Linked DNA regions of Homo sapiens. The protein of the gene in region 1 interacts with the protein of each later gene in a pairwise test. Each region holds a gene or a part of one and is shown on either strand. Other genes may lie near its edges.

Region 1 (11,623 bases):
ACATAAACAGGAAATCCCTGCCTCCCTGAGCCCTCCACTCAGCGTGCCCAGCCCCTGCCAGCCCCAGGAAGCACACCTATTGCAGGAACTACCCACGACAGATTAGGAGCATAGTGCCCTGGGCAGATTTGTAGCTCTTTCCCAAGTCAGATTTAGGGGTTCCCCAGATTACAGGAAGTAGCAATGTTCCATTTTAAAACAAAGGTCATATTGTATGGGGAGTGCTGTGAAAGACTGACTGCCCACATAATATGTTTTCATGCTGGGTGCGGTGGCTCAGGTCTGTAATCCCAGCATTTTTAGAGGCCGAGGCAGGTGGATCACTTGAGCTCAGGAGTTCAAGACCAGTCTGGGCAACATGGTGAAACCCTGTCTTTACGAAAAATACAAAAATTACATGGTACTATATGCCTGTAGTCCCAGCTACTCTGCAGGCTGAGGTGGGAGGACGCTTGGGCCTGGGAAGCAGAGGTTGCAGTGAGCCAAGATGGTGCCACAGCACTCCAGCTTGGGTGACACAGCAGGACCCTGACTCAAAAAAAAAAAAATACATATATATATTTCATGAATCAAATGTAATGCCTGAGCTGAAGAAATTCTGTGGCTTCAAGGATTTAGGGGTAGAGAAAAAAGAGCAGCTAACAGACTATGCCTAAGAATTTTCCTAGAAAAAAATTTTTTTTTGCATAAAATAAAATGAAGAATTTTTGAGACATTTAGGGAAAAGGTGGATGGCTAAAAATTCTAAGGTCCTTTACTAAGTCCAGACATAGTATTTTCTGACTCAAAGCTCAGGGCTCATGAGGTTCAAACAAATAGCTCTAAGAAATCTGAGGGGGTGGTCGGGGGCGGTAGCTCATGCCTGTAATCCCAGCACTTTGGGAGGCCGAAGGGGGCAGATCTCTTGAGGTCAGGAGTTTGAGACCAGCCTGGCCAACATGGTGAAACCCCGTCTCTACTAAAAATACAAAAATTAGCTGGGCGTTGTGGCGCACACCCGTAATCCCAGCTTCTTGGGAGGCTGAAGCAGGAGAATCGCTTGAACCCGGGAGGCGGAGGTTACAGCGAGCCGAGATCACAGCACCATACTCCAGCCTGGGTGACAGAGCGAGACTCTTGTCTCAAAAAAAAAAAAAAAAAAAAAAAAAAAAGAAATCCAAGGGGGGAGAAATAGGCTACAGACCACAATGCCCACAGCAATGGACTCCAGCATGTCAAAGTAACACAGGTTTCATATATAGAATCCAACCAAATAAATCACTGATGATCTAGTAATTAACTATGTGGACACTGGTATCAAAGAGACCAGCCGTGGCCAGGCACGGGGGTTCACGCCTATAATCCCAGCACTTTGGGAGGCTGAGGCGGGCGGATCATGAGGTCAGGAGTTTGAGACCAGCGGATCATGAGGTCAGGAGTTTGAGACCAACAATAGCTGGGCGTGGTGGCATGTGCCTGTAATCCCAGCTACTCAGGAGGCTGAGGCAGGAGAATCGCTTGAACCCAGGAGGCGGAGGTTGCAGTGAGCCGAGATCGCACCATTGCACTCTAGCTTGGGCAACAAGAGCGAAACTCCGTCTCAAAAGAAAAGAGGGCTGGGTGCGGTGGCTCACGCCTGTAATCCCGCACTTTGGGAGGCCGAGGCAGGTGGATCACAAGGTCAGGAGATCCAGACCATCCTGGCCAATATGGAGAAACCCCATCTCTACTAAAAATACAAAAATTAGCCGGATGTGATGGCACGTGCCTGTAATCCCAGCTACTCGGGAGGCTGAGGTAGGGGAGTCACTTGAACCAGAAAACCAGAAGTCAGAGGTTGCAGTAAGCCAAGGTCGCCACTGCACTCCAGCCTGGCAACAGCGAGACTCCATCTCAAAAAAAAAAAAAAAAAAAAAGAAAGAAAGAAAAGAGACAGGCCAGCATCACATCTGGGCTTAATGACTCACTGACTGGCTGGGCAGTAGACAAGATACTTAAAGTTTACTTTCTAAACTCAGTTTCCCTAATCTATCATCTGGAGATAGCATTCTCTAGCTATCTCCTAGCATTGTTGAGAGTTCAACGAGATAATATGCAGCCTGTAATACATGGTGCTGGGCACAGATTAAGTGCTCAATAAATTTTAGGTGGTATGATTAATATGCTAAGAAAACTTATTTTCTTATCATTGGTACTAGTAAAGGCACACTAAAGGAGTCAGCCCTGGTTAGGTGACCCAAGGTAAATAACTCCCCATCTCTGTACCTCAGTTTCTTTAACTGTAAAATTAGAAATTTTTTCAGGTCTGTCCCTTTCATGGAATTACTCTAGCTCTTGTGTCTTTCAGCGCTGCTCCTGCCTTTCTCTGTTCTCCCTCATGTCCTCACTCCTCTCTCCACCCCCAGCCTTCTTTACTCTCTAAGCACTGAGGTACTTAACCTCCTCTCTTGTGGACAAATGTCTGCCTCCTAATCAAGTGCCACCACTTTCTCCTTCTTCCAAGGCTCATTCACCATGGCTTCCAGAATAAGCGTTTTAAAACCCAAATCTGAGGATGGCTCCCTGCAGTCCGCAGAATTCTCTTCCAAATCTGGCCTCACTGACTTTTCTAGCCGCCTCTCCTACTACTCCCCACACACATCTCGACATTGCAATCACAAGAGTTCATTTTTTTTCCTGAATACATCATGCTTTGGTTCTACTTTTCTCTCTATCTGGAGGAGCCTTCTTTCCTCTCCCCCTGGCAATACTTAGGGCAGGCTTCAATATTACCTCTTCTTTGAAGTCTAATTTCTCTGAGATAAAGCTAGAGTCTCCCTCCTTTGTGCTCCCGCAGCCCTAAGTATATGCCCTTGCAGTAGCCCTTACTACAGTAACTCTTAACAGCAAAGCAAGACAAAGCAAAGACGTTAGTCGAGCATTTAATTACTTGTACAAGAACTGGAATGCAGTAGGTATGCAATACATGTTTGTCAAATAGTTTTAGAAAGTGCTATGATGAAGCGACATAACCAAAGACATAACGCAATTATTTTGATTTCAAGTCCAGCGCTCTTCCGAGTAACTAGGAAAAATGAGGGGAACTGTGTAGGCAGAATGCTGTGGAGGGGTGGAAATCTGAGGTCCCCAAGAGTCTCTAAGTGTCTCTTTAGATCGAATCGAAGGTCTTTTAAACAACAGATATACCAGATATAATGCACAACTCTTTCTCCCCCCACCCCCAATACAGTGGGACTAATAACAGCATCTACCTGACAAGATATTATGAAGATTAGGGCAAATGCGTTAATAAATGCAAACTGCTTAAAATAGTGCCTGGAAGTATGTGCTGGCTATCATCATCATCATCATCGTCACCATCACCACCACCAAACAAGCCTGGAACGCTCCAAGCCCAAGTGTACACTTGGACACATGGCACTCTGGCATTCCGAAAAATACTCATTTTCTTTGTAAACCTGGCAGACTAGCCAGAGGGTCCCCCCCCCGCCCCCACACACACACAGAAAGGGCCAGGCAGCCCCTGCTGGCGACGTGGCAACCTCACATCCTGAAAGAGAGCTGCTGAATCAAACAGCAGGAAAAGCACCACTGGAAAACCAACCGGAAGGGAGATATTGTAGACCGCTACTAGCTTCTCACTCGGACACTTACAATGACATCAGAATGGGAGACCCAAACTGCCGCTTTAATTCCTTCCAGGAGATTTCCCAGGGAACAAAATGGCCATGAGTTTTGCTTGGCCTGTGCCCTAACCCCAGGCTGGACCTTTGGGGTTAGCATCTGCCCATGCGAACTGGGCGAGGAAGGTCTCCTGCCAGGGAGCAGCTCTCCCCGGCTCCGAGGAGAGCTCCCCAGCCAGGAGGCCACTTTCCCCTCCCTGCGGACACTTCCCCGATCCCCCAAGCTCCTCAGGTCCCCTGCAACACTCCTCTCCCCAGAAGGACCCCGGCCGCCTGGTTCCAGGCAGGTCTGCACCTTGAAGTAGGCGACCTGCAGGTAGTTGTAGGGGCTCCGCTTGCGGAACTCCAGCTCCATCTCTTCGCTGAGCGAGTGGGCGGCCGGCGGCCCGAGGCAGCGGCGCAGGCAGGCAGCGCGACGCAGAAGGCCCCCGAAGAAGCTCAGGTCGCGCAGGGCGGCGGCGCCCGAGGCCTGGGCCGGGCTGGGGGACCAGTCGGGGTCCAGCTCCCACGGGAAGTCGGCGGCACACTGGGTGCGGCAGCGCAGGCGAAGGGCGCGGAGGGCTGCCCGGGAGCGCAGCGCCCGTTCCATGCTCAGGACCACCCCGGGCCAGTCCCCGCGCGCGTAGGCTGCGGTCCCCTCGGCGAAGAGCAGATCAGGCGTCACCATGCCCCATCCTGCCTCGGACTCGACCTCGGCTTGGGAGGCAGCGGCCACGACAGCCAGCAGTGTGGTCAGCAGCTTCAACGCGCGTACCGCCATCGCTCCCTCAGACCTAACGGAACCGCCAGCCACCCGCCACCAAGGCCGGAGTCCTACCCCCGGCGAAGGCCCGCCCCCGGGCGAAGCCCCACCTTCCAAGCCGGGCGGCGCATGCCCACGAGGCTTGCACCGCCTCTTTTCCTTTCAGTCAGCCCGGATCCCCCCACCGGCCCTCAGCGAATCCCGGCGCGTCAGCCGGAGCCCCGCCTCCGAGCTCAGGCCTTGCTCAGTCGAACTGACGCCCAGTAGACAAGAAAGACGGAAGCTCCGCCCACGCGCCTTTATGCGCAGGCTCTTCCTACTCGCACAGCCCAGGGAGTGGGGAGGATAAGGCGCTGTCATGGAGGACGCCGCCGCGCCGGGGCGGACCGAGGGGGTCCTTGAAAGGCAAGGAGCGCCGCCAGCTGCAGGCCAGGGAGGTATGCGGGGCGGGAGTCAGCAGGGGGAAGTCAGCTCCCGCGAGGCAGCCGGTCTCGGGGCTCCGCGGGAGGCCGACGGCGGGAGCTCACGGCTTGTGTTCCTGGGTGTGTGTCGCAGGAGCCCTGGTGGAGCTCACCCCGACCCCCGGCGGCCTGGCCCTGGTGAGCCCCTACCACACCCACCGGGCCGGGGACCCCTTAGACCTCGTGGCGCTCGCAGAGCAGGTGCAGAAGGTGAGGAGGCGCGGCCGGGGCAGCGAATAACCATCTTCGTTCACGTTGTACTCTGCGTCTTTCGGCTCAGACCTCACTACCACCTATGGTGGGGGTGGCATTTGCTCTTGTCTCCATTTTACAGACGAGTAAAGCCGACTGTCATTGTGAGTCGGTGGCCTGATTCGAATGACCTTCTGGGACCAAAGGTTCCTCTAACTGCAACTTGAGTGCCCATAATCTTCCTTCGTGGGAAGGTTTACACAACACTTTAGTGTTCATTATTTCATTTGCACCTTAGGACAGCCTTGTGAGGTAGGCAGTACAGAGTTATTCTTCCCATTTGACACAAAGAAAAGTTCTTCGGGAAGTTTCAAGGTCCGCTTATTTTAAGCTGCTTCCCATAAGATCTTTGTTACCTGAGAGTTTAAACATCTTCTAGCAGGGCAAGGACTCCAAGTTTAGTCCTCATTAAACACAGTATTCCCAAGCCCAGTGTTTATATATGGATGGCCAAAATAAGTCAAATAAGGAGGAAATGTGAAATAATGGAAAAAACACTGGAAGTTTGGACACATGAGTATTAATCCCACTTTTGATACTAACTTGCAGTGCGACTTAAGGCAGATTACTTCTCTCTGGACCTCAACTATTTTATCTGTGAAGTGAAAGGTTTGAAGTAGTAGAGCTCCAAGATCTAAAGTTTTGTCATTATTCAATGAAAAACCAGATTCCTTCTTATCTCTTATCAAGACTTCCAGTTGTACACCCTCTTCAGTGTCCACAGATGGAGGGTCCTGCTGTTTTAAAGATTATCATGGCCCCTTATCCCTGTATACACTATCAGATTTGGCCTTGATTATGTTCCAGGGTCTTTGCTTTGCCCAAAATTATTTAATGTGCTCAAATTCCCTCACATCTCTTTTTTTTTCAATGATCCTAGAAATCCTTCGAATCCTTTTTTTTTTAAAATTAAGAAAAATTCAGATACGCAGAAAGCTCCTTTAATTCAAAACTTGGCTTTCTTCTTTTTGAAGAGCTGGGGAGCAAAGTGCAACTTTTATTTATTAAGAGAATATGCATCTAGTTAATCAGATTACTCTTATTGGGAGGGAGGTTGGCAGGGACAGAATCTTGTGCACACAACGTATTCATGTGCTATTGAATGACTATCGTGTTTATTACGATGGCCTGAACAGATGGAAGAAAGAACACAGTTTTTGTCTTTCATCCTATAATCTTATGAAATACAGAGGATGCATTATTATGCTGCCTCTGTTTCCCCAATACAATCTGTATTTGAGAAGCTGAAGAAAAAAAAAACTTTAGAGACAAACAAATTGAATCAAACATATTAACTATCTAAAATGTACTTTTTGGCCAGGTGCCGTGGCTCACACTTGTAATCCCAGCACTTTGGGAGGCCAAGGTGGGTGGATCATTTGAAGTCAGGAGTTCGAGACCAGTCTGGCCAACATGGTGAAACCCCGTCTCTACTAAAAGGTGTGGTGACTCATGCCTGTAGTCTCAGCTACTCGGGAGGCTGAGGCATGAGAATCGCTTGAGCCCAGGAGACAGAGGTTGCAGTGAGCCGAGATCGCACCACTGTACTCCAGAATTGGTGACAGAGTGAGACTCTTAAAAAAAAACAAAAAAATGAGGCTGGGTGTGGTGGCTCACGCCTGTAATCTTAGCACTTTGGGAGGCTAAGGCGGGAGGATTGCCTGAGCTCAGGAGTTGGAGACCAACCTGGGCGACATGTGAAACCCTGTCTCTACTAAAATACAAAAAATTAGCCGGGCATGGTGGTGTGTGCCTGTAGTCCGAAGCTACTCTGGAGGCTGAGGCGGGAGAACTGCTTGAACCTGGGAGGCAGAGGTTGCAGTGAGCTGAGATCACACCACTGCACTCCAGCCTGGGTGACAGAGCAAGTCTAAAAAGAAAAAAAAATGGTGGTGGGCTGGGTGCAGTGGCTCACGCTTGTAATCCGAGCACTTTGGGAGGCCAAGGCGGGTGGATCACGAGATCAGGAATTCAAGACCAGCCTGGCCAACATAGTGAAACCCTGTCTCTACTAAAAATACAAAAAATTAGCCGGGCATGGTGGCAGACGCCCGTAATTCCAGCTACTCATGAGGCTGAGGCCGGAGAATCACTTGAACCTGGGAGGCAGATGTTGCAGTGAGTGGAGATTGTGCCACTTCACTCCAGCCTGGGTGACAAAGTAAGACTCCGTCTCAAAAAAAAAAGTACTTTTTTAGCAAGACTGACCCAGGTATTGGTGTGTGTTCAGAAAGCTCAGGAGGCCTGGTATTAAGGCATGAATTTTGGAATCTGACCTGTGTTCAGATCCTTTGCTGTTTATTATCTGTGAAACCTTGGACAGGTTGCCTCATGTCTGTGAGTCTTAATTGCTAAAATGAGAAAGTGAGGTTATCATCTCCAGCGTCATAAAGGTGTTGTGAGAAGTAAATGAGATGAATGTAAAGGGCCTCAGAGTAGTTGAGGCCAGGGTTAGTGCTTAGTAGTTGTAGGTACTCTTCCCTTCCTTTCTTTTTTATGAGGCTCTTTTGTTTTTAAGTTGTTCGTGAAATATTTTGCATTTTTTTTGTTTGTTTCTTTTTTCCTTTTTTTGGACCTCAGACTAATCCATATTTTGCATTTTATATTAACTCTTCAAAATATAAATTCAAATTTTGTTTATGAGATTTATTGCTAACACCTTAAGAAAAGGGAGGGTTATTATAAGGCCACCCCTAATCTGGAACTACCTTAGCTCTAGAAATACCTACTCTCTCCTTGGCCATATATGGCTCCTCCTTTCTTTCTTTCTTTTTTTTTTTTTTGAGATGGAGTTTCGCTCTTGTTGCCCAGGCTGGAGTGCAATGGCGCCATCTTGGCTCACAGCAACCTCTGCCTACCGAGTTCAAGCAATTCTCCTGCCTCAGCCTCCCAAGTAGCTGGGATTATAGACATGTGCCGCCATGCCTGGCTAATTTTGTATTTTTAGTAGAGACAGGGTTTCTCCATGTTGGTCAGGCTGGTCTCAAACGCCCGACCTCAGGTGATCCATCCGCTACGGCCTCCCAAAGTGCTGGGATTACAGGTGTGAGCCACCACACCTGGGCTTTCATTCTTGGAACAAAATGCAAATTCTTTTACCATGGGCTACAAGACTGCACAATCTGGTCTCTGCTCTCTTTTTAAACCCTGTTCTACACATTGCCCATCACTAACTACTCTTCAGCTGCACTGGCCTCAAATGCCTGCAAACTTTTTTTTTTCCAGCTTTTTTCATGGTCGGTCCTCTCCTTTCATTTAGACCCAAGTCAAATGTTATATCCTTGGTGAGGCCTTCTTGTCTGAAGAAGACCGTACCCTACCCCATCCAAATGACAGTATTATTAAATTGAATTCAAATACCTCTAGGCTACATATACTTTCCAATTCCCCACCACTCCCTATTATTAAACTTCATAAAAATGAAGTAGCTTTTTTACTTAACTCATTTGTTATCTTTAACCTGCTTCTACGACATAATTGTGGTTATTTCCTTCATAACAGTGCATTGTTATGAGTACATATAATATTAGCTTTAATCATCTTTACTTTTTGGTATCTATTACTCACTGGAGCTGTGCTTTAGGTAGCCACTAGCAACATTATGTCTGTTAAGCACTTGTGTTACGTTGTTAGTGTGGCTGAGGAACCGAATTTTGTATTTTATTTGATTTTAATTAATTTGAATTTAAAAAACCTGATAATTACTTCAATTATTGGAACTCAAGTATATTGGAACAATTTGAGTATGTGAATCAACTTTTTCACATATAAATTTTATTAAGTTTAAATACAGATGAAGTATTTCTGATGAAAATTTAGCATCCAAATTGAGATGTGCTGTGAGTACAAAATAAACACTATATTTTGAAGGCTTAATATCAAATGCAAAATATGGATTAGACTGAGAAGGACCAAAAAAAGAAACAAAAACAAACAAAAAATGCAAAATATTTCATTAACAACTTACAAATAGTGATTACATGTTAAAATGAAAATGTTTTTGATATATTAGGTTAAGTAAAATGTATTAGCTGAGCACGGTGGCTCATGCCTGTAATCCCAGTACTTTGGGAGGCTGAGGCAGGCGTATCACTTGAGGCCAGGAGTTCGAGGCCAGCCTGGCAAACATGGCAAAACCCCATCTCTACTAAAAATACAAAAATTAGCGGGGCATGGTGACGCATGCCTGTGGTCCTAGCTACTCAGGAGGCTGAGGTGCGAGATTTGCTTGAACCCGGGAGGCGGAGGTTGCAGTGAGCCTCTGCACCACTGCATTCCAGCCTCCGTGACAGAGCGAGACTCTGCCTCAAAAAAAAAAAAAAAAAGTATTGTTAGAATTAATTTACTATTAACGTGGCTACCAGAAAATTTAAAATTTTATATGCAACTTGCCTCATATTTCTGTTGAACGGTATTAGACTTGACTTGCGATCTTGACAAAGGCAGGGACTTCTCTTTCCTGTTTGCCAGTACACCCAGTGCCTAGTGTGGTGTCTGACACATAGTAGCTGCCTAATATACATCTGTGGGACAGATAAATGACTCAGTTTACTTGTGTGGTTTCTGTTCACTCATAACACTGGTTTATACCTGAACTTTGCCTTAAGACTCCTCAACTAACCAGCAAATTCTCTTTAATATTTCTTAGTTCAGGTTCTAGTTTAATCTCCTCATTTCTTTACCTTAATTGTGTATAATCAGCTTTTCTTAAAAGTAAGGTGGAAGTTTTTGACAGAATTCTATTGCCTGAGTGGTAATCCTTCCCAGCACATGAATTTGTCACATTAGTCTCTCCTAGCTTTGAGAATTTGATCTATTTTAAGAAATGTCCTGGCTGGGCTCAGTGGCTCACACCTGTCATCTTAGACCTTTGGGAGGCCGAGGTGGGCGGATCACCTGAGGTCAGAAGTTCGAGACCAGCCTGGACAACATGGTGAAACCCTGCCTCTACTAAAAATACAAAAATTAGCTGGGCATGGTGGCGGGCACCTGTAATCCCAGCTACTCAGGAGGCTGACATTAGAGAATTACTTGACTCCAGGAGGCAGAAGTTGCAGTGAGCCAAGATTGCGCCATTGCACTGCAGCCTGGACAATAAGAACGAAAACTGTCTGAAAAAAAAAAAATGTCCATTGCCTTCAGTTGCACTTTGTGGCACGTGACAGGTAGTCTTGTGTGTACATTATAACTCTGTTTCAGGTCCACATCATAATGCAGTCTTTTAAAATACATTTTAAGTAATAATTAGAAATGCACATATAAGTTAACATTTAAGTAGTTGTGATGTAAATAACTGAGGAAATGGTCAGATTAACGCATACTTTCTCAGTTCAGGGGGTGTGGGGGTCACACAGAAAAACCCGAATACTTTCTATGTGTATCTAGATTTCTACCTTAGCAGATGATAAGGGCCAGATCACAAGTGTCTTTTAATTATTTAAAATCCATCCCTGATTTCACAAGTGTTTAAACATGAGAAAATGGAGACCTGAGAAATGTGTGGTGTTTGTTAGGTAAAGAGCAGGAGGAAAAATGGATTGGTTGGAGGAGAGGATATATTCAGTATATTTGGTAGCAGGAGAGAGAAAGAGAGAAGGCATGCTGGAGAACCAAAGAAGTTCAGTGTAACTGCAGTTCATAGCGAAGGGGTGGAAAGCTATGGGAAATAGAAGAGAGCACTTAACTCTGTGGCGTGGAGTCATGTCAGGGTGGCCTTCTCATGACAGTGCTATCTGAGTGGGGCCTCGGATGAGTGGGAGGCTATGGGGCAGTGGCAAGAATGGGAAAAATATTTTAGGCAGAAGCAAAATATTAACATAACCCTGGGATCAAGATAAGAACATCATAGAAGTCTTTTCCTCTTTCAACCCACAGTTTAGTTTTTTCTCACCTGTAGGCTGATGAATTCATCCGAGCAAATGCCACCAACAAGCTGACAGTCATAGCTGAGCAAATCCAACATTTGCAAGAACAAGCCAGGAAGGTAAGGAATGACTGTTAGACAGGCTTTCATTTTCTTTATTTAGTTCTCAGGATTGGCTGAACTTGTTTATAATCGTTGTGACTTTTTATGTCTTTAATACCTCCTAGAAATGTAGAGGTGTTGAGTAAAATAGAAGGAATAAGCTTAAGAGGTTAAGTATAAGTTTTTGTTTGTCTGTTTGTTTGTTTTTGAGACAGAGGTTTGCTCTTGTTGCCCAGGCTGGAGTGCAGTGGCATGGTCTCAGCTCACTGCAGCCTCTGCCTCCCGGGTTCAAGCGATTCTCCTGTCTCAGCCTCCCAAGTAGCTGGGATTACAGGTGCCCGCCACCACACCCTGCTAACTTTTGTATTTTTAGTAGAGATGGGGTTTTGCCATGTTGGCCAGGCCTGTCTTGAACTCCTGACCTCAGGTGATCTGCCTGCCTCAGCCTCCCTTGTTTTGTTTTTTCCAGGAGAAGGTTTCATGAGGTAAAGCATTTAACAGGGGATTATGTTTTCATTTATAAAAGAAATGTACTTAGCAC
Region 2 (9,538 bases), on another chromosome or scaffold:
GTGGTCTACGGGTTCTACAATAAATCCATCACCGGATTTTCCAGTTTTCCAAAGGGGAAATTCTAGGAGGCCCCTGGGGAATTCATTTCCTGCCTTTCTCTCCCTCTTAGGGGATGTAGAGCAGTTGTACCCACAGACTCCCAGAAGGCACCCTCCACCGGGCTCTCACTGAGTCCCAAAGTAAACCCATGTCCAGTTTCTGTTTGGGGAGGAAGAAGGTCTTCAATCCAATTCTAGAAATGGCCTGCCCCTGGTTTTCTTTTCACTGCTTGGAGGCAAGGTGGGAAAATCACCGGGCGCGGCCAATCCTTGCTGGTCCACGCCTAAATCCGGGAAGAGGTGGGGACAAAATGCTGGGACGGCTGTGCAGCTTCTGCTTGGAGTTGAGGCAGGTGGCGAGATCGCAGCCCTGGTGGCCAGGGAGGTGCGGGACGCCGCGGGTCCTGGCGCCCCCTGCTGCTCGAGCGCTGCCTCGCGCCGCCCTTCAAGCTGCCGGCCGCGGTCCCCGGCTCCGGGAATCTCCCGAGCAAATTGGCCAGATTTGGAGACATTCATTCCGAAGTGCCTCCTTGTGAGCTTGGATCTATCTTTCACTTGCTTCATGACGCTTTGGTTCCCGTTTGACAGATAAGAAAACTGAGGCTCAGAAACAAATAGGGGATGGGAGCCAGATCTTCTGGGTAGCTGTCCCAGCAAGATAATAGGTTGGACAACAGGAGGCTGGGCGCTGTGGCTCACGCCTGTAATCCCAGCACTTTGGGAGGCCAAGGCGGGAGATCGTTTGAGCCCAGGAGCTCGAGACCAGCCTGGGCAACTTGGCGAGACCCTGTCTTCTACTAAAAATACAAAAAAAAAAAAATTAGCTGGGCGTGGTGGCGGGAGCCTGTAATCCCAGCTACTCGGGAGGCTGAGGCATGAGAATCACTTGAACCCGGGAGGCAGAGGTTGCAGTAAGCCGAGATCGCGCCACTGAACTCCAGCCTGGGCGACAGAGCAAGACTCTGTCTCAAAAAACAAACCAACCAACCAACAAAAACCATACGAGACTGCTGAGTCTAGATAAAAGCAGTAGGACACAAGCAATTTCAAATGGTTCAACCTAAAGTGAATGGCAAGCGGAGGTGCCTTGCCTCCTTTTCGTACTTAGGCTTGAGACACCTTTCAGAACTGGGCTGAGGGGCTGGGCTGCTGGCTTTTCCTTTATCAGGTTCGTTCCTTCTCCCTGTCACAATCTTGCCTCACACACCCCTGCCCACAGGAGCTGACCTCAGACCCGAGCTTCCTGACCACTGTGCTGTGCGCGCTGGGCGGCTTCTCGCTGCTGCTGGGCCTCGCTTCCCGGGAGCAGCGACTGCAGCGCTGGACGCGTCCCCTGTCCGGCTTGGTATGGGTCGCGCTGCTAGCGCTAGGCCACGCCTTCCTGTTCACCGGGGGCGTGGTGAGCGCCTGGGACCAGGTGAGAGGGGCGGCAGGCGGGGCAGCGGGGACGGCCCGGGCTTCGATCCCTCACCAGGCCTTGAATAGCCCCACTTGGGCCTTCGGCTTCCCGCGCCCCGCCCCCAGGTGTCCTATTTTCTCTTCGTCATCTTCACGGCGTATGCCATGCTGCCCTTGGGCATGCGGGACGCCGCCGTCGCGGGCCTCGCCTCCTCACTCTCGCATCTGCTGGTCCTCGGGCTGTATCTTGGGCCACAGCCGGACTCACGGCCTGCACTGCTGCCGCAGGTGAGCACGCAAGTAGCACAGGCTGCGCTCAGGACGGCTCTGCCACGTGCTAGTAGGCTCCTTTTAGGGGGTTGTTGAGCTGTGACTCCAAGTCAAGGTGCAACGCTGGGCGCAGGATACCCAACCGTGCTTTCGCAGAGCTGGTACAACAGTGTGATGCAATGCCTGCTGTTACCAGAAGAGGGATCCAGGCCACACGGAAGGGAGTCGTGTCGTGGTTTACCCCGGGGACAACAGATGTGGTTAATGAAACCTTGACAGAGAATGAAAAAAAAAAAAAAAAAGTTTTGTGCGATGGGAGTGGGTAGCGACAGTGGAGTGGTATTCCAAGCACAAGAAACCTACCTGCAAACGTTTCCAGACCTAAGAGGTCGTGTTGGTGAAGCAGCCGAGAGTCTGGAGGAGGGAGCATCTGGGAAGGGAAACGTCCCTAGGGATGCCACAGTGTGGCACCACTTGTCCCACAATAGTTAGGTCCCTCACTGTAAAGCCCAGTCTTCCCCAGCCAGTCTTTGAGACCAACTCCAACTACACACGACAAGCACCCGGGTCCCGCGCCCTCTGAGGCTGGCCTTCACCCACAGTTGGCAGCAAACGCAGTGCTGTTCCTGTGCGGGAACGTGGCAGGAGTGTACCACAAGGCGCTGATGGAGCGCGCCCTGCGGGCCACGTTCCGGGAGGCACTCAGCTCCCTGCACTCACGCCGGCGGCTGGACACCGAGAAGAAGCACCAGGTCAGCCGGGCCTAGGAAGGTCAGAGCAGCGCTCCGAGGGAGGAGTTGCTTAGATTACATAACGGGGCTCCTCCACAAGTTGAGTGACTCTGGGCAGGTTTCTTGACCTGTTTCCTCTTTTGTATAAAATGTGGGTATTGCCCATCTTAGAAGGTTGTGAGGCTCAAACAAACCAAAGCTTATAAAAAGCACTTTAGAGCATTATGATATTAAGTGAACTCCCATTCAGGTGTTGATACTGGGAGTTTAGTCACTAAAGGTGATCAGTGTAGGATGGAGTGCTGGGGCCCTGCTGTGTGCAGCGGGAGGACCTGGGGGAGCACCCTGGGGAGCACCTAGGATGGGCAGTGTGGGCTCCTGAGTGATTTGGGGGACAGGGCCTCCTGGCTTTAGGGTGCAGAAGAGTTGGTGTTCATGGTGACCTCTTCCAGGAACACCTTCTCTTGTCCATCCTTCCTGCCTACCTGGCCCGAGAGATGAAGGCAGAGATCATGGCACGGCTGCAGGCAGGACAGGGGTCACGGCCAGAGAGCACTAACAATTTCCACAGCCTCTATGTCAAGAGGCACCAGGGAGTCAGGTATGAGGAAGAATGGCTGGAGGGGAGGGGCCTGTGGGCTAAGACCCTGGCCCTGCTGACACAGTCTGCCCTATGCAGCGTGCTGTATGCTGACATCGTGGGCTTCACGCGGCTGGCCAGCGAGTGTTCCCCTAAGGAGCTGGTGCTCATGCTCAATGAGCTCTTTGGCAAGTTCGACCAGATTGCCAAGGTCAGAGAAGACTTCCCTCCCCACCCAGGGACCCTCAAACATCCCATCCTGGGTAGCCCCTTCCAAGGGAAACTCCCACCTTATAAGATCCCAGGCCCACTTCAGTGCATGCAGGCCCCCAGATATTCCAGTGGAAGGAGGAAACCCTCTCAAACATTCCCAGTCATGAAGCTGCTCACCACACACCTCAAACCTACAGAGATCCCTCAATATCGCCACAGATGTCCCAAGTACAATGCCCCAAACATGCTCAGAGCCCCCACATATGTGTCTCTGGACACTACAACCAAATCTATAGAGACGTTCTGATATTCTAACCTTAGGAGGCCCTTCCAAGAGAAATTTCTGCCCTATGCAACCTCAGCCCAGCAACCTGCTTAGACTCCAGGGATGCCTCCAAGCAACCAATTCTTGGATTCCCCCCAACCTCTCAATCCTGAGACCACTACCACGTACTCAACTCTGGGTACCCCCTTCAACATGCCAAAAGTGGAAAGAGCCACAGCCATCCAGCCCTTGGGGAAACTCTTCTGAGAAAGAGATCTGTATGAAAGACAGTTAGCCCCATATCAAGTGAAAGGAGTCCCTAGATCTGATCTAGACACTACCCCACCTTGGAAGTTCTTCAGGAATACCCCGCTCGCTGCCCACTTTTCCCAACTCCCTCCTACCCTTCTGACCTCTAACCAGGTTCCTCTGCACACCCACATACACACTCCCAGGAGCATGAATGCATGCGGATCAAGATCCTGGGGGACTGTTACTACTGTGTCTCTGGGCTGCCACTCTCACTGCCAGACCATGCCATCAACTGCGTGCGCATGGGCCTGGACATGTGCCGGGCCATCAGGTCAGCTCAGGCGGTGGTCAAGAGGAATGCTGAGGGTGGATGTGGGGGGCAGCAGGCAGCTGACAGAAGTCCTCTTTGTGAGAATCTGGGGTGTCTCACAGGCAGGGCTGAGGGTAGGACTCAGATTGTCCCACACACACACTGCTCAGGAAACTGCGGGCAGCCACTGGCGTGGACATCAACATGCGTGTGGGCGTGCACTCAGGCAGCGTACTGTGTGGAGTCATCGGGCTGCAGAAGTGGCAGTACGACGTTTGGTCACATGATGTCACACTGGCTAACCACATGGAGGCAGGCGGTGTACCAGGGTGAGACCTAGGGCCCTAGGCAGCTACAGCAGAAGGCCAACCAGGCCTACCACAGGCTGCCATCCTTTCATTAGTTCCTTAAGATAAGCACAAGATGAGTACCTTAAGATAAGTCCCATATGGGGCTTGGGAGATCCTAGGGTGCAGGGAGGGGAGCTGGGAGGCACCTCCTGTAACACAGGCTCTTTCTTGAAGTCAGACATCCAGGAACGATCTTTAAAAGACATGAGATGTTTGTCAGTTCTAGGAGCCATGGGGGTGATGGGGCAGGAAATAGGAGATTTGAAGGCCCTCCCTGCTGACCCCTACTGCCTCCCTCCTTCCAGGCGAGTGCACATCACAGGGGCTACCCTGGCCCTGCTGGCAGGGGCTTATGCTGTGGAGGACGCAGGCATGGAGCATCGGGACCCCTACCTTCGGGAGCTAGGGGAGCCTACCTATCTGGTCATCGATCCACGGGTAAAAGCCCAGCCCAGACCCCATGGGCTGGCCTACACAAACCACCCCACAGCCAACAGGCCTGATCTCTTCTGTGCCAGAGATTGAGTTCCTGGGTCCTAGTGGGGGGTGGAGGGAGAAGGAGGAAGTGTCTGTGGTCTTTACTGTCAGCCCTTATGTGCCCCAGGCAGAGGAGGAGGATGAGAAGGGCACTGCAGGAGGCTTGCTGTCCTCGCTTGAGGGCCTCAAGATGCGTCCATCACTGCTGATGACCCGTTACCTGGAGTCCTGGGGCGCAGCCAAGCCTTTTGCCCACCTGAGCCACGGAGACAGCCCTGTGTCCACCTCCACCCCTCTCCCGGTATGTGCACCTTCATCCTGAGCCCCAGAGCTTAGTTAAATCCACCCCCAGTATCCTCAGGCCCCACTGGCAGCCTTCCCTGCCCCCACCACCAGTGAGCCACTTAATGATTTGTGACATCCCAAAGTCCCGAACTGTCTTGTCACCCCAGTCACTGGTTCAGGCCCTTCCTTGCCCCTCCTTCTAGAGAAAGAGCCCTCCAGCTCACCTCAGAGAAGATACAAGATCCCTACAGACACCATTGTAGGGACCAGCCCCACAGGGTCGGTGGGTCTCTCCCTGTGTGCGACGACGAGAGAGTGTAGAAATAAAGACACAAGACAAAGAGATAAGAGAAAAGGCAGCTGGGCCCGGGGGACCACTACCACCAATGCGCGGAGACCGGTAGTGGCCCCGAATGTCGGGCTGCGCTGTTATTTATTGGATACAAGGCAGAAGGGGCAAGGTAAAGAATGTGAGTCACCTCCAATGATAGGTAAGGTCATGTGGGTCACATATCCACTGGACAGGGGGCCCTTCCCTGCCTGGCAGCCGAGGCAGAGAGGGAGAGGAGACAAAGAGAAAGACAGCTTACACCATTATTTCTGCATATCAGGGACTATTAGTATTTTCACTAATTTACTACTGCTATCTGGAAGGCAGAGCCAGGTGTACAGGATGGAACATGAAGGTGGACTAGGAGCGTGACCACTGAAGCACAGCATCACAGGGAGACGGTTAGGCCTCCGGATAACTGTGGGTGAGCCTGACTGATGTCAGGGCCTCCACAAGAGGTGGAGGAGCAGAGTCTTCTCTAAACTCCCCCAGGGAAAGGGAGACCCCCCCCCCCACCCCGCTTTCCCGGTCTGCTAAGTAGCTGGTGTTGTTTCTTGACACCTTTTGCTACCGCTGGACCATGATCCGCTTGGTGACGGGCGTCTTCCCAGATGCTGGCGTCACCGCTAGACCAAGGAGCCCTCTGGTGGCCCTGTCCAGGCATAACAGAAGGCTCGCACTCCTGTCTTCTGGTCACTTCTCACTATGTCCCCTCAGCTCCTATCTCTGTATGGCCTGGTTTTTCCTAGGCTATGATTATTGAGTGAGGATTATCATAATATTGGAATAAAAAGTAATTGCTACCCACTAATGATTAATGATACTCATATATAATCATATCTAAGATCTATATCTGGTATAACAATTCTTGTTTTATATTTTATTATACTGGAACTGCTCGTGTCCTCTGTCTCTTGCCTCGGTGCCTGGGTGGCTTGCCACCCACACACCATGTCCATAACTCCCCAGCCTCTACTCAGGAGAGTGCCTTCCCCTGACACCACAAAGGCAGTTGGACCCCCCACTTCCTCCTGTCTCTGATTCTAGGGCTGTGCACCCATAGCACCAGGAAATGTCTCTGTTTAACTCAATTCCTGAAACTGCATGCTCTCTTCTTCAACCCCCCAACACTGGGGAGTGGGGGAAGGACACTGGCAGCAGTGGTTGCAGGAAGTACTTAATTCCAAGTGTTAACATGAGGTAGGGGAGAGGTCAGAGGGTTAAGCTGGCAGGAGGAAGAGGAAGGAAGAAGCTGAGGTTCAGCTGACTGTTGCAGGATGAGACCTCCAGCATGGGTGGAGTGGTGTGTGGGGACTGCTACAAGCCCAGGGACTGTGAGATGGTGTTAGGTACAATTACATAGCAGGAATGCCTGCCGGGGCCCATGCTAGACCTCCTGCCGCTTTCCACTGGTGTGCAGGCTAGGGAGTATTAGGGTGGAAGAGCAGGACCCTTTGTTCAAGGGTGTCTCCTGAGGCAGGACCTTCACTAGCACAGAAATCCACTTAGCCCCTGAAGTTCCAGGGGCTCAGTCAAATATTAGAAATCTTGCCAGGCACGGTGGCTCACACCTGTAATCCCAGTACTTTGGGAGGATGAGGCAGATGGATAGCTTGAGGTCAGTAGTTTGAGACCAGCCCGGCCAACATGGCGAAACCCCATCTCTACTAAAAATACAAAAATCAGCCAGGCGTGGTGGTGCGTGCCTGCAATCCCAGCTACTCAGGAGGCTGAGGCAAGAGAATTGCTTGAACCTGGAAGGCGGAGGTTGCAGTGAGCTGAGATTGCACCAATGCACTCCAGCCTGGGCAACAAGAGCGAAACTCCGTTGCAAAAAAAAAAAAAAAAATCCAGCCAGGTACGGTGGCTCATGCCTATAATCCCAGCACTTTGAGAAGCCGAGGCAGGCGGATCACCTAAGGTCAGCAGTTTGAGACCAGCCTGACCAACATGGTGAAACCCCATCTCTACTAAAAATGCAAAAATTAGCTGGGCGTGGTGGCACATGCCTGTAATCCCAGCCACCTGGAAGGCTGAGGCAGGAAAATCGGTTGAACCTGGGAGGTGGAAGTTGTGGTGAGCCGAGATCATGCCATTGCACTCCAGCCTGGTGACAGAGCAAGATTCAGTCACACACACACACACACACACACACACACACACACACACACACAAAGATCCTGGGAGTCTAGAGAGTCAGGGGGAAACTTTAAGGAGATTCAAACCTCCCCTTCAAGGGCAGGTGGGATTTGGGAGACAGAGAGGTCATTAGAGGCAAAAGAAAGAGCCCAGTGAAATGCCCAAGGTCAAAGACATGTATAGAGCATGCAGTGTGGCTCATGGTCTACCTCACTGCAGGGAAAACACCCACCATGCCCACCTCCCCCTGTGCTCTCCCAACAGGAGAAGACCCTGGCTTCCTTCAGCACCCAGTGGAGCCTGGATCGGTGAGGAGGCCTCAAAGTCTTTGCCAGTGGGGCTGTCTGGATGACCCCCTCCATCCTCCCTGGGGGTCTGCTCCTGCTTTGCCCAGACGCTCTGAGGGTCTCTGTGGTGATGGACTTGGCTCTCACTGTGCAGGAGCCGTACCCCCCGGGGACTAGATGATGAACTGGACACCGGGGATGCCAAGTTCTTCCAGGTCATTGAGCAGCTCAACTCGCAGAAGTACGGAGAACAAAGAGGGCTGGGGGGGCCGCAGGCCCTGAGGTCATATGGTGGAGAAGGGATGGTGCTCCCTGAGGGGCTGGAGGGAAGACTCGCCTGACCACCCCCTCTTGCCCTCACTCTGCCCTCTTCCTGCCCTTCTGTGCCCTCTGTTCTCTGGTGCTTTCACCCACCCTCCCACCTCCCACCAGACAGTGGAAGCAGTCGAAGGACTTCAACCCACTGACACTGTACTTCAGAGAGAAGGAGATGGAGAAAGAGGTGGGCTGTGGTGTGGGTGGCACCAAACAACTTCCCAACTTTAGTTCCTTGGTGCTGGGGAGGGGTCAGCCCTTGGGTCTCCTCCCCAAGTCTGCTCAGTTTGTGATCCTAGGGGTGAGGAGCTTGTGCCTCTCTCTAAAGGAAAGTCACTCTGTAGACTGAGCTACTAGATGGTAGGGGGAGGAAGGAGGGTAACTCCTTGGAGAACTGGTAGGGTCTACATGGAACTGAACTGGAGCCTGGGCGGTGAGGCTGAGGAGCCCACCCCTTGCCTGGGAGTGATGCCTTCAAGGTGATGGGTAGCACTGGACCCTGTCTCCACCTCTGGCCCTCTCACTTTCAGTACCGACTCTCTGCAATCCCCGCCTTCAAATACTATGAAGCCTGCACCTTCCTGGTTTTTCTCTCCAACTTCATCATCCAGATGCTAGTGACAAACAGGTGAGAGTGCCCCAGGCAAAGGAGGCCCTGGCTGTCATAAGCGGATCACCTTGCCCTCATGACCCCGGGCCACACTTTCTTCCTTCACCCCTTCCCCTTAGCTTCAGGCACTTACCCACAGAGGAAACATGTGTTCTGGGGAAAATGATAATCACGGCCCTTATCTTAACCTTGTAGATCCTGTGGACTTTCTACACAGCCCTAGCATTTTCCCATGAGCATCTCTTTTGATTCTAACAACATCCCCATGAAGGCCAGTTTGTTTCCATTGAGAAACCCAAATCTGGCAGCAAATGCATGAGCTTAGAAAGTAGGCCCTCATTCCTAGTCCACTGCTAGGAGGGATGAGGACTTGTTCTTAACTCAGCCAGGTGGCCGGGTGTGATGGCTCACGCCTGTAATCCCAGCACTCTGGGAGGCTGAGGCAGGTGGATCACCTGAGGTCAGGAGTGAAAGACTAGCCTGGCCAACATGGTGAAACCCCATCTCTACTAAAAATACAAAAATTTGCTGGGTGAGATGGCAGGCGCCTGTAATCCCAGCTACTCGGGAGGCTGAGGCAGGAGAATCGCTCAAACCCGGGAGGCGGAGTTTGCAGTGAGCCAAGATCACACCACTGCACTCCAGCCAGGGCAACAGAGCGAGACTCCGCCTCAAAAAAAAAGAAA
Region 3 (9,267 bases), on another chromosome or scaffold:
TTTAAATTTTTCTTTTCTAATTGCTCTGGCCAGTCCCATTCCTTTAGAAATAAGGGTGTTGCTCTGTCACCCAGGCTGGTCTCGAACTCCTGGGCTTAAGTGATCCTCTCACCTCAGCCTCCTGAGTGGCTGGGATTACAGGCATGCACCACTGTGCCCAGCTAGTTCCATTCTTTTCAGATAAATTTTTTCAAATCCTCTAGAAACAGGTAATATTTGTGCTTTTTAAACAGTTCAGAATACACACAAAATATAAAATGTTTCTAATATTTATTATATATCTAACATATTGATAATCTAATAGAATTCCAGATTCCTAAAGGATTTCTGTATAAGCACTGAGAGATAACCTGTCTTAGCCATTGCTAGTCAGAACCAAAGAAAATACCATGAAGATTCTGAGGTCTTCCACCAAAAAAAGTTTCTTAAAAGAAATGGAGGCATGAAGGCAGTCAGGTAATGACAGCAATGACAGAATGAGAAAAGTACTGCAACAGTTCAAAAAACTGCTTTTTCTTCCTGGTTCTGCTACATAATTCAAGATAACTTTAACCACCTCTCTGGGGCCCAATTTCTTTACATTGCAAAGAAGTTATGGACCCTTTAATACTCAGTTCCACAAATTCTGACTCAGAGGGTTCAGTGAGAACTCCAATAATTGGGAGGCAATAAACTCACTGGATAGCTTTGAGTAAGACGACTTTTGGTGTGCCTGTCAGTTCATATCCTCCTATAAAGTCTCTAACCTCAACCCATCCCAACCACAGGCCTGGGGGCCTGTAGCTATGTATTATGGATCCTTTTAGGAAAAAGTATCTTGCTAGTCACAACTATGTTCTCCCTTGAAGAAAAATGAGCAGGTGAAGCTGCTGTTCAGACAGAATGAAGCGGATGTGCAAAGGGACCACAGACAACCATCACGGTAGGAAATACCGCTTGCTTTACTGCTGAATCTCCAGTGCCTAGATCAGTGCCTGGCCCTAGCAGGTTTTCATCAAATAATTATTGAAGGACCACTGAATTTCATTCCCTCATGTGGTTTCCATGAGATACTTCTGTATTTCTCTAATCATTCAATTATTCCTCCCCCTTAAGCTAGCACAAGTTTCTTTCTTACAACCAGAAAGCCCTTCCAAATACATTATGATATTCTCCCCTTCATAGCCACCACTTACTTCACTACAGGTATATGTCAGACCTCAGGAAAGACACCACCGAAGACTGGATCACATGTCCCCACTCAGGAATACAGAATTGGCACATGAGATTAGGTCAGTTGGTCAGCAGCACTAAAGGTGGTGATAGACACCAATGCAGCGCATAAAGGCTGGCCGGCAGGCGAAGTGATAAGAAAGCAGACACAAACAGGAAAGTAGACAATGGTGGTTCTGAGACATCCCTATATTTTCCTGCTATGGACTGAATGTTTGTGTCTCCCACACCCCCATTCATATGTTGAAATGCTAACATCCAACAGTATTTCGAGGTGGGGCCTTTGAGAGGCAACTAGTTCATAAATGTGGAGCCCTCATGATGGGATTAGCGCTCTTGATTGTGATGGTTTCACACATTTATGTCAAAACCAATCAAATTTTCTACTTTAAATACGTGCAGTTTCTTGTACTTCAATTGTATATGAAAGTTGTAAAAAATGTGGAGAGTTCAGTTATTAACTGATTTCAGTTAGAACAACCAATAATGTACCAATAATGGTACAACATTTAAGGAGGTCCCTTATGACTGTGCTATTTTGGACTTAATATCAGTACTTACTGATTTATTCCACTGCTTTCCCAACTCCCTTCACCCTCTGCTCCCATAAAAGTGAACAATTATGAATGTCATAACCAAATTGGTAAATTCGGGCCGGGCATGGTGGCTCATGCCTGGAATCCCAGCACTTTGGGAGGCCAAGGCGGGTAGATCACTTGAGATCAGGAGTTCAAGACCAGCCTGGCCAACATGGTGAAACTCCGTCTCTACTAAAAATACAAAAAATCAGTCAGGCGTGGTGGTGCTCGTCTGTAGTCCCAGCTACTTGGGAGGCTGAAGTAGAAGATGAACGCAGGAGGCAGAGGTTTCAGTGAGTCGAGATCTCGCCACTGAACTCCAGCCTGGGTGACAGAGCGAGACTCAAAAAAAACAAACAAAAATTGGTAAACTCTAATTTAGAATTAGTAGAATTAGGAGGTAAGATCTTACACATTCCTCAAATTTGTCAAGATTTTGCATTTTAATTTCTAAATCCCTTCCAGGAGTTAAACATCAGTATAAATTGGGGTAACTGATTTAACATAAACCAGTGTTATAGCTTATGTCAAAACTATCTACTTAGATTACAATCTCTTTTAAGGACAAGGCCACATCATTAATTTTGATTCCCAAGTTTACAAGCACTATGTCTAGTACAGAGGAGAGTGAGAAGGAACAGGGAAAGGGATAAAGGGTATGAGGTAAGATGGTAGGAAGAAAAAGGGTATGTGTGCAGAGTATGTGTGGGTGCAGAGTATGCAGGGTCTCGTAGGCCATGATAGACATTGGACTTTAGTCTGATTGTGATACAAAGCCATTGGTGATTTTGAGCAGACAAGTGGTATGGTCTGATTTATATGAATATACACACATACACACATATTTTGTTTTGCTTGAGACGGAGCCTTGCTCTGTCGCCCAGGCTGGAGTGCAGTGGCATGATCTCAGCCACTGCAACCTCTGCCTCCTGGGTTGGAGCGATTCTCCTGTCTCAGCCTCCTGAGTAGCTGGGATTACAGGCATGCACCACCACACCTGGCTAATTTTTGTATTTTTAGTAGAGATGGGGTTTCACCATATTGGCCAGGTTGGTCTCAAACTCCTGACCTTAGGTGATGCACCTGCTTCGGCTTCCCAAAGTGCTGGGATTACAGGTGTGAGCCACCGCGCCTGGCCTAATTTATATTTTAAAATAAGGATCACTCTGAATGCTATGTAGAGAATAAACTATATGAGGAAAATATAGAAGCAGGGTACATACCAAAGAGTATGCCAAGAATGGGTGCACATGCTCACTGAAAGACAGATGTGATCATTTTCATAGTAACTTTATTCATAATGACCACAAGCTGGAAACAACCTAAATTTCTATCAACGGTAGAATGGGTAAGTTGTGATGTAGTCACACAATGGAATACTACACAGAAGTAAAACATGAACTGCTACTACATATAACATGGATTACTCTCACAGATACAATGTTGAACAAGACACGGAAGAGTGCATATAATTATTTCACTTACATAAAGTTTTAAAACAGGCAAAACTAATCCGTGGTGATAAAAGGGGTTGGTGGGGGCCTGGGGAACATAAGGACACCTACTGAAGTGCTAGAAATATTCTATATTTTGACCTGGGTGGTGCATTCAAGGGCATATATAAAAACCCACTGAGGTGTACACTTAATATCGGTACACTTTTAAATTTTACCTCAGTAACAAGTTGAAAATATATTGGAAGAAAGCATATAAATGAAGATGTTAATCAGTGGTGTTGTCTTCCAAATATTTCTGGTTTTTCTCCCAGGTATATGCAAGGATCACACTCCTCCTAGAACTTTAATGTGGCTATGTGATTTGCTTTGGCCAATGAAAGTCCTTTAAGAGTCCTTAAGTGATTTGCCATACTCTTTTTTCATTTCCCAAAGTTAGCACCCACACTCCTGATGGTATCTGCTTTGTCAGCCTGAGACCCAGAATGAAGGCAACTTAGAGCACAAATTGGTGAACTTTCTCTGTAAAGGGCCACAGAATAAGTATTTTAGGTTTTGTGAGATGTACACACTCTGTAGCAACTACTCAGCTGTGCCATTGTAGAACCAAAGTAGCCACAGATAATAAATAAATGGACAAGGCTATATTCCAGTAAAACTTTATTTAGATAAATAAGGAGCTAGACAGATTTTGCCCATGGACCATAGTTTGATCATGGCCAACCTATGATCTAAACCAAAGTCCCTAGGCAAGTTGCAATAGAAAAGTTGTGTGAGACAGTGAGATTTTGCCTTTGTTATTCAATGGCAAGCTAGCCCATGCTGACACAGAAATTGGTCCCTTGTTTTTTAAAATGCTAAAATACTGAACACTGGCTTAATGGTTAGCTGGCAGGCATTCAGGAAATTGCTATCAGAAGATGGAAGAAATAACTTACACAAGGGTAATTTATATTATGGAAAGGTGAAACTGCCCCTTGAGATAACCTGAAAGGCAGATCATCTACCCTTTACTAAAGAAAAAGACAGAAAAACAAAATATTTTGTAGTTGCTGTTCACTGCACTTGACAAAACGTACAGAAGAGATGAACTCAGAAAAGACTGGTCAGTTTGCAGGCAAAAATGAAAAGGAAGAGAATTCAAATTCAAGTACTTACTGGGTAGGATGAGGCAACATTTTAATATCAAAAAGAAAGATAAAAATGGGAAATCCTTTTACAAATAAATAAAAAGAGAAATCCTTTAGCCAAAAGGTTGATTAAAAGCCAGTTTTGCCGCCGGGTGCAGAGGCTCACACGTATAACACCAACATTTTGGGAGCCCGAGGCGGGCGGACTGCTTGAGTCCAGGAATTCGAGACTAGCCTGGGGAATACAGCAAGACCCTGTCTCCACATAAAAATACAAAAATTAGCTGGGTGTACTCGTGTATACCTGTATTCCCAGCTACTTAGGAGGCTGCAGTGGGAGAATTGCTTGAGCCAGGAAGGCAGAGATTGCATTGAGCTGAGATTGTACCTCTGCACTCCAGCCTGGGTGACAAAGTGAGACCCCGCCTCAAAAAAAAAAAAAAAAAAAAAAGCCAGTTTTGCAGCAAGCACCAAATCACTGGATGACTATGACACCTACTGTTAAGATCTCTGAATGACTTAATATGCCTCAGACTAAAACTCCAACTAAGATTATACTAGTTAATCCCATAAATTGGTCAAAATGGCTTAAGGAAACAGACTAAGGGTGTGGCTTTCCCACCTAAGCCTGAAAAGCCTCAGTTACCCAGAAATTAAGTTCAGAGAGGCATGGGAACAAGAAGGCAAAGGAATACAGCAAACTTTAGAAGTATACATTAACTAGATGTCACTTTTGGGTCATCTCCCTTTGGGTGATAAGGACATTCTGCAGGTGTAAAAACAAGTGAACTGAATATATAGTGACCAGAAGGGCTGAGTCAGTCTTCTACTTTGTTAAATTTACTTACTTTTAAATCCCAGAAGAGCCAAAAATCATCTGTAAAGGAAAGTAGCAAGTAAATAGCATGCCATTTTCTCCTAGTGTTGATGCCTACAAAAGGAAAAATGATTATTAACTCTTAGGCGGCATTATCTTTTTCCAATACTAAATGTAACATTTAGTAAAAACATATTGTTTTAGTTCACTAAGTAGTTGTCTAATCTTTTCCCTCTATATGTAGGTTCCTTTGGAAATTTAAAAAAAAAAAAAAAATATATATATATATATGACACTGTTTACAAAGGGTAAAAAAAAATAAGATTCTATACATGGATATGCAAACTTAATATTACATAGTGGATTTGGTGTGTATATTTGGTTTTGAATCCTGAGTTTACTACTTACTGTGTTTACCAGGGAAAACCGCAATTTGTTATCCTTCTCTCCTTTCATACAACAGAGAAAACCACAATTTGTTTAACAGTCACATAATACATATTTAAGTCACATGCTAAGCACTACACTAAATTCTGAGAATACAACGAGGTCCCTAGTTACAAAGAACTTGTCTTCATTTTTCAATTAGTAATATGTGGATAAAAGTTACCCAATGGACAGTCTAAGGCAGAATGACTGTGAAGGTCAAATAAGACTGTGAAAGAGCTTCAAAAATTGTAAAACACTACACAAATATTCGTTTGTCCAAACATTTATTGAAATGCCAGGCATTGTGCTAAGCACTAGAGATATAACAGTGAACAAGGCTTATATGGTCCCTGCCCTTACAAAGCTTACAGTCTAGCAGTGATCAATAAGCAGTAACAATAAAGTGTGCCAAGTGTATGTCTGGGAAAGAACAGGGTGTATAGGGAATGGATAGTAAGGGCACCTAATCTAGAGGGCATCAATGAAGGTTTCCTAGATGAAGTGGCATACTGAGACCTTAAAGATGAAGATAAATTTGTATTGTACCCTAAGAGCAATGGTGAAAGCAATGCAGTGACATGATCAGTAAGTCTTTTGGAGCAATTTGGTTGTAGTGTAGAAAGGAATAAAAATAAAAAACAGGGAGACTAATAAGGAGGCTGTTGCTATAATTTAGGTAGGTTGATGGCCTGAATTAAAATGGCAGCATTGGAGAATTGGTAAAAAGGACAAATGAATGGTTGGTAGTGGTAATGCCATTTAGTCAAAGAGGAAACATGAGAGGAGGAGCAGGATTGGGGGCAAGATCAATGACATGTAGTGCCTGAGACAGCAAAGAGCATTTGTTAGCAATTAGATACATCAATTAGGGAAGATCTAGAAAGGAGATATGAATCTGACAGTCATTTGCATATAAATGGTAAGGAAACCATGGAAGGAAATGAGATCAGCTAGCGAGCTGACACAGAACAAGGCAGTCTAAAACAAATTTTTTTAAAAATACGAAGAACAGATATTGAAGGGAAGAGGTGCCTGCAAAGACTAAGAAAGCACACCTGGAGATGGTATCTCCTCAAAGCTAAAGTCATCAAGTGTTCAAGTGTTTCAAGGAGGGTAAGACTATTAACAAGGACTTAGCATAGTAGAGCAATTTGAGTGGCAATACGGGACACTGGGAATACAAATCTGTCAAGAAAACTAGTAGGAATGAGCTATAGGACAGTAACTGGTAAGGACCTAATAATTTTTTTTTTAATGTACGTATTTTAACTATATTCACTGCTACAACAGGACCAGTAACAACTATATTTATTTAAAAAAAAAAAGACTGCCATGCAGTTACAGAATTACTTAATACAGAAAACAGTAAAATACACTTTTTTCTTTTTCTTTTTTTTTTTTTTTTTTTACAAACAAGACTAGCTTATAGCAAATTCTCTATAGCTAAGGGTCAATTTAAAATCCTTGGCTTATATCTCCCCCTCACTCAATGACTACATGATGCAAACTAATTTTATTAACACCTTAAGCAAAACATACTGGAATTTCACAAAATGTACAAGATTTCAATATTTAAGGAACTGGGGTTAGAAAGCAGAAGTGGCTTTCAGGTCTTCCAGTCTTTCTCTCAAGTAATAAAGCTCTGCTGTGAATATTCAAAGCTATTGGGAAATTACCGGTAGATTTTTCTGTTTTTTTTTTTCGGTTTTCCACTATGTTGTTTCTCTAGATATGTAAGCTTACTCTATTAACCAAAATCTCAGCTTGACCATTCTTGATAAGTACCTAATCGACATGTAACTTTTTTTCTGCCTTAAATATGTATAACAGGACAGAGCCCTTAAATCTGATTCAATTATTAATTCCTGATTTACAAGTGCTATGGTGAGCTAACAGAACTTATCAATGCCTTTATTGCACTTTACTAGCCAAATTTAGAAGGTTGGAATTAGTCTCTCCTATCTAGTATTCTGTCAGTTTGCCCAGCTTGTACTTTTAATTTTGCTTCTAATGGTAATCTGCCCTATCCCTTGAAATAAAATAATCTACATTTTGGGAGGGCTAATTCTTCATTGTGCCAGGCTGTCCCATGCACTGCAGGGGTGAGTGTCTTTAGGCTTAAATGCCAACAGAAGCCCCTAGTAAATATGACAACCAAAAAAGTGCCCCTACACATTTCTCAGCATCCTCTGGAATGACAGGTTACTGCCTCTAGTTGAAAGCCACTGGCACAACTTTGGTTTTTAAGCTCTTATGCCATTTATTTTAATTGCCCAGACATCAATTCCACCTAAATTCTTAGTCATAGCCTGGTTCCTTGAATTTGCTGGATTAGTAACCACAGATTAAGGTGTTTCAATAGTTAAGACAGGACTTTGGAACAAGAGTTTTTAAATTGTATAATACTTGAGAGGATCTATGAATATAAATTGGGTCCTGTTTATAATTAGTTTTACATAATGAACTTTAAGATTGCCTTTTCATGGTGAACAGAAGTTTGGAAATTACTGTTTTGGCACAAAGCAGATTATCTTAGTAGAAATACAGAATTACTGCAATCTGTGAATAAGACTGCTTTTAAATATTTCTACTTGTGTGCTATCTTACATATAGAATGTGTACGACAGTTCCAAATTTTAGAATAAATCCATTTCTAGCATCTAACAAAATCTGATACTGTATCATTTTAAAACAAAGTGTTTACTTTAGGCAGGATTTTTTAAAATAAAGCAGCAATACCCACGCAGATAAGACAAAAAAGCTAAAATATCTCACACCTCCTAATCCTGGAGTGCAATCTTTTTTCCTCATCGTTTTTGATAGGGCCAAACTTGTGTCTACAGTAAAAAAAAAAAAAAAAAGAATTACTAACTGGCAACCATTAAGATTCTATACTTACCATAGTCCTTTAATAGGCAAGCTGATAAAATAGCCCCCAGTTATTAAAAAAAAAATCCAAGGAAAACCCCCAATAATTAGTCTTATCTCCAAATTGCATGAAGTCTCCTATATCTGAAACTTAAAAATGATTCTAATGACTTCCTCTATCAGTAATGTGTTATCACTGAGGTGGGTGATGGGGAGGGAAGAGGGAAGAAATCTGTCAGTATTACCTTCGAACTCAGAAATGTTTAAAAAAAAGTCTCAAACATTTTGATGGTTAGACAAAACACCTCCACTGTTATGTATGGGCTTCCTTTTTGGAAACTTATGAACTTGCTATGTGAGCTTCTGCAAATTGGTTCAAAAGCACATTTAAGGAGTTGATAATTTAAGACTATATGAATCAGAATTTTAACACTCCATTAAAATAAGAGCTGAAATTTTTGGCATTTATCTTCAGAACACCTAAAAAACAGACTGCAAATTCAACTCACATTAATACTAAATCTCTTTAAAATTAACTATATCATAAAAGACAATGACTTTGTCACTAAACTAAGTTTTAAAAAAGGTGGCATTCTCATGTTTCAGTCCCATGCTGCCATTTGAGATGAAAAAAAAGGCAACTGTCAGAATTTTAATTGTGATCAGTTTGGACGGCTGGTACTTGGTACTTTCTCACAATCCAAATTAGTAAACTTGAAAACTCAAACCAATTTTTGCTTTTAGAATTAAATTCTTGTTGAGTTTTTCAATCTTGTACT

Evidence for each region.
Region 2: the proteins of C1orf50 (region 1) and ADCY4 interact in binary tests that used the Homo sapiens proteins (3 or more experiments, as listed by UniProt).
Region 3: the proteins of C1orf50 (region 1) and EPM2AIP1 interact in binary tests that used the Homo sapiens proteins (3 or more experiments, as listed by UniProt).

Annotation. Positions count from the first base shown.
Region 1 is NC_000001.11:42,762,550-42,774,172, forward strand, and holds the start of C1orf50 (uncharacterized protein C1orf50), read left to right. Parts: upstream 1-4,699; 5' UTR 4,700-4,762; coding exon 4,763-4,841; intron 4,842-4,959; coding exon 4,960-5,075; intron 5,076-11,013; coding exon 11,014-11,100; intron 11,101-11,623. Other genes in the region: P3H1 (prolyl 3-hydroxylase 1 isoform 3 precursor), read right to left, coding at 3,958-4,422.
Region 2 is NC_000014.9:24,324,709-24,334,246, reverse strand, and holds part of ADCY4 (adenylate cyclase type 4), read left to right. Parts: intron 1-1,258; coding exon 1,259-1,456; intron 1,457-1,563; coding exon 1,564-1,725; intron 1,726-2,309; coding exon 2,310-2,459; intron 2,460-2,890; coding exon 2,891-3,039; intron 3,040-3,117; coding exon 3,118-3,229; intron 3,230-3,951; coding exon 3,952-4,079; intron 4,080-4,228; coding exon 4,229-4,387; intron 4,388-4,713; coding exon 4,714-4,846; intron 4,847-5,012; coding exon 5,013-5,186; intron 5,187-7,904; coding exon 7,905-7,948; intron 7,949-8,081; coding exon 8,082-8,168; intron 8,169-8,359; coding exon 8,360-8,429; intron 8,430-8,772; coding exon 8,773-8,870; intron 8,871-9,538. UniProt on the Homo sapiens protein: Catalyzes the formation of the signaling molecule cAMP in response to G-protein signaling.
Region 3 is NC_000003.12:36,981,979-36,991,245, forward strand, and holds the end of EPM2AIP1 (EPM2A-interacting protein 1), read right to left. Parts: 3' UTR 3,065-9,267; downstream 1-3,064.